2 separate regions of the Homo sapiens genome follow, and region 2 is linked to region 1. The links come from fine-mapping of genetic effects on gene expression. Tissue or cell type: tibial nerve. Region 1 holds a variant in brackets; the other region holds the start of a gene. All regions are shown on one strand. Distances are between the middles of the regions.

What was found. PIP is the estimated chance that this variant, and not a neighbour inherited with it, causes the effect.
Region 2: S100A13 starts here. The variant in region 1 is the best candidate, but not a certain one, in a credible set for the expression of S100A13 in tibial nerve (GTEx, PIP 0.53).

Annotation. Positions count from the first base shown.
Region 1 is chr1:153,603,661-153,607,783 of GRCh38, forward strand. S100A16 (S100 calcium binding protein A16) reads right to left here. Exons shown (of 3, transcript NM_080388.3): 3 at 3,226-4,032. The coding sequence ends at 3,874. Among named protein-coding and RNA genes, the nearest start is that of S100A16, 7.4 kb to the right of the region's middle. RefSeq lists an enhancer at 1,370-2,325. The variant G/A (reference allele first, on the strand shown) is at 2,008.
Region 2 is chr1:153,625,695-153,629,817 of GRCh38, forward strand. It overlaps S100A13 (S100 calcium binding protein A13), which reads right to left and starts at 1,811. Exons shown (of 3, transcript NM_001024211.2): 1 at 1,789-1,811; 2 at 626-839. The coding sequence starts at 778. S100A1 (S100 calcium binding protein A1) reads left to right here and starts at 2,740. Exons shown (of 3, transcript NM_006271.2): 1 at 2,740-2,802. RefSeq lists enhancers at 1,233-2,058, 2,885-3,708.

The sequences.
Region 1 (4,123 bases):
TAATGAGAATTCAGAGCCTCAGTGCCACTCATGGCTCAAGACTAAGGGTCATGGGGGTTCCCTCTCTTGGCTTTGGAGCCCCCCTCCCTCTGTCTCTGTATAGGGGAGCTTCTTCCTTCTCCCTTCCTTCTTGTCCCTCTTGCCTATTAAACTCTCCGCTCCTTAAAACCACTCCACGTGTGTCCATGTCGTTTTATCTAAACTGGCATGAGCACCAAGAACCCTGGTGTTCCTCCACTCATCAGAGCCGTATCATTTTAGTGCGTTGGCCAGGAAAGGAAATTCGTTCATCAGACTGAGTCAAGGAAACTTATTTTAAGCTATTTGTGGCCTTTAATAATTGAGTAAGGTGTACTCCTATGAACAAAATTTGGAGCATGTTTATTTCTCTGCCTGGTTCCTCTAGAATTTGGAAACTATCTGAATCAAGCTTGACAAGCAGAGCCAATAAAAGCCGCTTTGGGAGAACTGGCCTCATACCTTGTCTACACAGTCTCTGGACAGGGTTCCTAATCTGTAGTCAGTAAAGAATGTCATTTTTTAACACGTCTGGGAGCTCCGAGTTTATCTTGGGACCTCAAGAGGAGAGGATCACCCAACTAACAGGTATTTGAGGTTTGTATCCTCAAATACAAACTTTAGGCTTTAATAGTCTTATCTGAAATTCCTTGTGAAACAGAGTTTCATCAAAGCCAATCAAAAGGCCTGTGTACAAATAACCATTCTTGCTGCACTTTATGCAAATAATCAGGGCAAGTATAAGACTACAGTTTATTCATAACTTGTTTTTACCAAGAACGAGGACTAGAGAGAAAAATTGTGCTCCAAAGCTTATCATACATTTTTTTGTTTTTTGTTTTTGTTTTCAAGCTTTTCGCCTACATTTTAGACTAACCCTGCTTATTCCTGTGAATCAAGCAGTGATCTCCTGCAGCTTGGAAGAAAAATTAAGGGATGGGTAATATAAAATCTGAATCAATATATTAGTTCTGGGCAATTATTCTGCAAATTCTACCAGGTAATAAAAGTGAGTAGGGTGCCCATAACCCAGAGGTTTCTTCGTTTAGGAAAATAAAACCAAGGAACTTCATAGACCCCCAAAGGGGAATTCTATATCTTGACAGGTAAAAGTTTAGATGGAAATTATCTACCACACCACACTTATGGAAATAGCTATACTCACTCTATTATTTGCAATAGGATTATACATGGTAGCACCTTCTAACTGAAATATTAAACAGAGAGTTTCCATTGCTGTCATATTTTGCTTAATCATTATCCTTATAGCAGGGATAATAGCTACTAATGAAAAGGAAGCATAAAAGTTTTACTACCACTGAATCTGCTAGGACTTTTTATTGGGTTTAGTGATGCAGTTTTCAATGAAACATGCTGCTTTCGGATTAATGCCTCTAGTTAAAAGAAAATCTACAAGTACTTAAAAATCAAATCAAAATTATTGATCCCCGAGTGGCTACAATGCCTCTTTAATAAATTCCAGTCTTCTTTATGGAATTGGTTAACCCCTTTATTAAGCCCTCTCTTGCTTATGTGTCTTGTATTGATATTTGGACCCTGTATACACAATACTATAACTCAAATTGTTTCTTCTCATCTAGAAGCAATCAAACTCCAAATGGTGCTGTAAACAGAACCACACATAGACACATCATTCTTCTGAGGACCCTTAGATTGACCCCAGGAGGAGCCCTAGCTGCTCTTCCCCATTCGACGCCCTTTTGCAACAAGAAGTAGCCAGAAGGAGTCGTCGCCCAAAACTCCCTAACAGCAGTTAGTGTGGCATCTCCACAGGGGGGAATGTTGTAGGAGTTATTAAGAAATTATTTTAGGCAGATAGAGAGGAAAATGGGTCCTTGGGTCCTTGGGAAGTTTTTTGTTTTGTTTCTTTTTCTTTTTTTTTGAGACGGAGTTTTGCTCTTGTCGCCCAGGCTGGAGTGCAATGGTGCGATCTTGGCTCACCACAACCTCCGCCTCCTGGGTTCAAGC[G/A]ATTCTCTGGCCTCAGCCTCCCGAGTAGCTGGGATTACAGGCATGCGCCACCACGCCCGGCTAATTTTGTATTTTTAGTAGAGACGGGGTTTCTACATGTTGGTCAGGCTGGAGTTTTCATTTTTTTGAAGCATCTCCAGAAAAGTTTCTTGTAAAGCCCCGGCTCTTAGAGCCAGGTTGGCAACCTTTGATATGCAAATGCAAGCCCTTAGAAACTGGGTCCACCCAAACATGGTGATTCCCCCGGCCTTCTTGCCCTTTCCCCACATGTTCCTGGCAATGTGGCTGCCCTCACATATCCCCAGGTGTGTAGACCTGCATTTGCATATTAAAAGGCTAGGGTGGGGCAAGGTGCGGTGGCTCACGCCTGTAATCCCAACACTTTGGGAGGCCGAGGCGGGCGGATCACCTGAGGTCAGGAGTTCCAGACCAGCCTGACCAACATGGAGAAATCCCGTCTCTACTAAAAATACAACAAAAATAGCGGGGTATTGTGGCACATACCTGTATTCTCAACTACTCGGGAGGCTGAGGCAGGAGAATTGCTTGTACCCGGGAGGCGGAGCTTGCGGTGAGCCGAGATTGCACGCCATTGCACTCCAGCCTGGGCAACAAGAGTGAAACTCCATCTCAAAAAAAAAAAAAAAAAAAAAAAAGGCTAGGGTGTGAGGGCCAGCTTTTTCCGAGGGCTACGTGAATGACACGCATAGTCAAACCAATCCCCTGAGCCCTATACAAATCAGACTCCTCCTCCTCCAGCCTCTGTATATATACCTAGATGGTATCTGTGGCAGGTGGGGTTCCCTCTCTCAGCTTTGGGGCCTCCGTCCCTCTGTCTCTGTACAGGGGAGCTTCTTCCTTCTCCCTTCCGTCTTGCCCCTTCTTGCCTATTAAACTCTCCGCTCCAAAAAAAAAAAAAAAAAAAGACTAAGGGTCATGGTCCCTCTCTCGTGGAATTGCAGTGAGGACTAAACGGGACTTACAGTGTGCCTGGAAGTTGAATTTGAGTCTGAGTCTGGGCTAAAAGGGCCCAGAGATGGTGACCTAAGGCCTTTGGCCCTTTATGGAGGAGGATGGAGGGAGCTGCTGGCCCACAGCTGACAGTGCCTGTTGGAATTTAGGAGTTCTGGCTCCTTTCTTGCTCTGCCTTTGAGGTTCTTCTGTGAGATTCTCTCTTATCACAGGGCCCAAGGGCTAAGACCACCAAAGCATAAAACGTTTCCAAGGAGTGGGAAGGTTTTAATGAGCATCCCAGAGGGACCAGGGGATACAAACTCCAAATCCAGCCTTTATATCATCATTATTTCAAGCAACAGGAGGAGGCTCAGCCTTGCTTAGCTCATTCCCAGATGAAGAGGCAGCTGGAGGGAAGTCCCTGAAAGTGCCTCTCTACCCAGCAGAGGGGCTAAGGGAAAGTGGAGAGGTCTCTGCTGCTGCTGCTGCTGCTGCTGCTGCTGTTGCTGCTACCACTGCCACCAAGAGCAGGGAGACCTCAAGCACCAAGCTGACCTTTGGAGGTCAGGACGGACCCAGAATCAGGCAGGAATTTGGCAGGAACATCAGACATTGGAAGGTTAGATGAGACTGAACAGGTGAGAAAACTCTTAGGGTCCCCAGACAGCATTGAGATCTCACAGAGGGGCCCCAAGGGCCTGCGACTCCAGGAGCTGAGACCCCCCAGGGAGGGAGGTACCTCTAGACTGAGACACTCACAAAGGGACCCCAGTTCAGCAAGGGTCAGAGGAAGGTCTGGAGGGAGAAGAGAGTAAAGGGCCCTGGGTGGGCAGGAGGCTGAGGAGGGAGCCTGGGGAGAGCACCAGGGCGGGGCATCAGGCCAGTGCCTGGAAGGTGTGGCCAAAGGGGTCTCTAGCTGCTGCTCTGCTGCTCCTGCTCATGGATGAGTTTGGCGATGGGGCCGGTGATGCCGCCTATCAAGGTCCAGTACTCATCGAAGCTGATGCGCCCATCATGATTGGCATCCAGGTTCTGGATGAGCTTATCCGCAGCCTTCCGGTTCCCTGTGTCCTGGGGAGGAAGCAGGGTCAGCAATGCTGATGGTGGAAGCCCCAGAGAGACTCCAGGCAGGACCCTAGGCAGAGACCCAGGATCTGGCCTG
Region 2 (4,123 bases), 22 kb after region 1:
AGCCAGCTCTGGGTCCAGTCCTGTCTTGGGGAAATTAGACCAGAAAGGCACAGAGCATACACAAGAACCCAACAGCATCTTCTGACACAAGACCATACTCCCACTGGCACATAGTATCTTTGCTTACCTAATTATATGCATGGACACACAAACACACACATGTACACACCAGGCAAGAAAACTCACAACCGGGTCAGGCGCAGTGGCTTGCGCCTGTAACCACAGCACTTTGGGAGGCCGAGGCGGGTGGATCACCTGAGGTCAGGAGTTCGAGACCAGCCTGGCCAACCTGGTGAAACCCTGTCTCTACTAAAAATACAGAAATAGGCTCGGCGTGGTGGCACACACCTGTAATCCCAGCTACTCAGGAGGCTGAGGCAGGAGAATCACTTGAACCCCGGAGATGGAGGTTGCAGTGAGCCAAGATCACACCACTGCACTCCGGCCTGGGCAACAGAGTGAGACTTTGTCTCGAAAAAACAAAAGAAAACCTGCAACCATTGACACATGCAGCCACCCACACCCTTTCTTGTGGTCACCTCACCGTACTCGGCACCATCACGTCCTAAACACAGTGTCCCATAATCATCATCTCACAAAATCTCAGTCCCAGACTTCTGCCTACCTTGAGCAGATGGGGCAACTGCTGGGTAACCAGCTCTTTGAACTCGTTGACGCTGAGGCTATCCTTCCGGCCCTCCTGCCTTGCAAAGGTGAAGAAGGTGGTGACCACGGTCTCAATGGACTCCTCTAGCTCTGTCAGTGGTTCTGCTGCCATTAGGACCCTGAGGCCAAAGCTGATGTCCTCAAGGGGCTAGCTGACCTTTGTCAGGGCTGACCTGTGGAAGAGAGAAGGAGCAGAGAGGGAGAGTCAGGGAGCCCCAAGATGCAGGAATGGTTCAGAAGGTCCCTGCCTTGGTGTTATCACATCAGTCTCAGCCTGGAGGGGGCATATGGGGAAAGAGGGAGAGGACAGGGGTTGAGCTTGGGGCAGCAGACCAGGCAACGGCATCTCAGTTTTGGTGGGGGCAGGAGATTCAGCTCCAGAAACCCCCTCTTCTGTAGGTCTCACAATCCGGGATCCTTTTTAAATGTCTGTGGCTTAGGGACCCCTCTGTGGTGATCCCTCGATCTGGAGACCCCTCTACTTGAGAGGAGGTCTTCAGTTGAAGGTCCTTCTTGGAGTCCTTCAAGTCTGGTGGCCCCTCTGTGGCGTGTCTGTCTCAAGAATCCCTTCTTGTCTCACCCAGACTCACAGGTCATAAGGTTGTTTGTCTCCAAAGCTTGTTTATGTTGGGCCCTGGTCTCCGGCCACTCGCATCCGCCCACACACACTCTAACCGCTCCTCCCAGCAGAGAAGCACAGGGTCTGGCAAATGTCCCCTGTGGTCAGAGCTGGCTCCGTCTGAACAGACCCATTTTCTCTGCCCCGCTCCACCCTTACCTCTCCTCAGCGGCAGCAGGGCAGAGTGCTGAACCCAGGACCCCACAGATCCTCCCCGCTCCTGTCTCCCGGTGACAAGGGTCCTGGAACGGGGCGTCTCTGACTCCCTGCTCCAGGACGGGTTTAGTACAGGCACTCACAACCCCCTGGGGTGCGGCGGGTGGGGCTGGAAGAGGCATTCTCTTTTCTGTCCACCCCGTCACACACTCCTGCACGCGCTGTTGCTCGATCATCCAAAGCTCCTTCCTGAATTCCTGTCTGAGCTGGCTCTGGGGGAGGGACCTGGGAGCCCAGGAAGAAAAAATGATCTCCAGCCTCCCTCCAGGGTCAGCCATGAGACTCACCCGGCAAGGAGATGGGGTAGAGTGAGCTGGAGCCTCAGGGCTGAGGTTTATAAGCAGCGGGGAAGGAGGAGAGAGCTGCTTCCAAGCCCGGAGGTGTCAAATTTCCGTGGTCGATTCTGAAGACCAGAGACAGCCCAATCAGGCCGCTTGCCCTGAGCCCTCAGGTCTGGACCCGGGCTCCCTGCCAGCCACACGAGCGCCCCCACTTGGTCAGGGAGAGGAGCTGCCTGGACAGATCTCGTTCGGCAGGGGTCCCAGGGTCCTAGTCCTCTCAATACTGGGGGCTGCTGCCACCATACCCATGTCTAATCAGGAGTGTGTATGCTGAGGGGGGAAGAGGGAGGCAACCAATCAAGGGAGCTCAACACTGAGAGGCCCAATCTGAGACACACACAGAGGCCCCTTGGAATGAGATCCCACAAAGGATGCTACAGACCAAGATCCCTCAGAGAACCCCAGGCTGAGGCCCCACACACAGAGGGGGATCCAGGTTGAGACCCCCAGAGAAGAGTCCTGGATTGAAATCCCTCTGTGGGTTCTCAGACTCCCAAGACTAAGTTTCTCACTGAGGGTCCTCTCAGTGAGGCCCCATGGAGGAGCCACAGACTAAGACCCCCTCAGCAGAATTCCCCCCTTACCGGGCTCAACCAGCACAGCCAGCCACAGGTACTGCAAGGCCCAGCTTGGGGTAAGACATCCAGTGTCCCTCCCAGGACCTCCTTCCCACCTCTTTCCCCTGCACCATCCACTGCTGCCTGGAGAGAAAGGAACGGGGCAAGCAAGGCTGGGAAAGAGACAAGGGCCGCCTGTTCCAGCCCAGGAGACAGAGGGCGCCTCTGTCTGCTCCTGGCCCCTTGCCCCACAGGGTGTTCGTCTGTGAAGGGGTGGAGTCGGTGGGGGGGTCAGCGGGGGAGGGACTGTTGAAGACAGGTCTCCACACACAGCTCCAGCAGCCACATTTGCAACCTTGGCCATCTGTCCAGAACCTGCTCCCACCTCAGGCCCAGGCCAACCGTGAGTACCCTGCCCCACTGGGCTAGTCCCTGGCCTGCCAGCTTCAGGGAGAGGGGTCTTCAGAAGGGCTCCAAGAGGCTGGGGACCATAGCACTGTGGAGCACTGAGGATCTGGGAGGAGTCAGTCAGGGTGAGGGCAGTTTGGGATTTGGGGGAGACAGGGTTTGGAAGGTGGTGATGAGAGACAAATGAACTGAAGGTCGGAGAGAGAGCTGGCAGCTCAGCAAAGGAGGAAGCCAGTGGGGAACCCACCATGAGCTTCCTGACCGCCTGGCCCTCCCACAGGGAGCCCTCAAGTCCCTGCCAAGGCCCCCTCTGTCTCCCAGGTGTTGGGAAGGGTCCCAGCCCTCCCCTGCCTCGCCTCCTGTGGGGTAAGAAGAGAGCAGATACAACAGCTGTTTCTGCCCCCACCTCTCCTGCCAGCCTTAGTCTCTGCCACCCCCACCCTGCCTTGCCAAGAGCTCAGGTCCCGGGGGAGTCTGGGGGTGGCAGGGCAAAGCTCCCATGATATGGGGAAGCAGAGATGTAGGGTGCTGTGCCCCTTCCCAACTCGACCTCCACAGGACCTCCCCTTTCTCCTCCTCCCATTTTTGGCCCAGACCTCTTGACTCCTCTTTCCCCCCATTCTTACCTCTTTGTTTCCCCATCTCCCCTGCCCCCAAGTCCTCTCAGAACTGCCACCACGTAAAATCCCAGGCTGCTTTAGGGCTCCAGGTGACCTCCAGCTGCCCCTCTGGCATGGAGCAGGTAATCAAGCTACCAGCACCCCTCCCTCAAGCACCCCTTATCCCCTCATCAGCCACAGCTTGGGTTCCATCTCCCCCATGTCTCTGTGACAACTGCTTCTCAGGTCCGGAGTTCAGATGACACTCACAAGGGCCCCATTGAAGAACTGGGATGTCATTCGATCAGGGGCCATTGTCCAGCCCCCTAGGCCTGGGGAAGGATGGGGACATCTGATCCGAGACACCTGAGCTGCCCCCTCTGGGGTTGTGGAAGGCCAGACTGTCCCAGGGCCAAGGGAAAGAGGCCCCCCGGCTTGGCAGTCTTCTCTCTCAACAGACCACTCCTTTCTCCTTTCTTCTCCTACTCTCTCCCAGCCCCTTGAACTCAAAGGACCGCATGCTTTCAGCCCTTTCTCTCCCCCAACACACAGCAGCCCCATTCCCCTTGCTCCCACTATCCCCGAATCAACCAGGAGTGAGCAGTTGCAGGGACAACGCCTGCAGGTCTCCTCTCCCACTCCCTGGGAACTCTGGCTCCAAGGAAAAGGCTCAGACATTCCTCTCTCCCCTTCTGCCACCCACCAGATGGAAGGGAT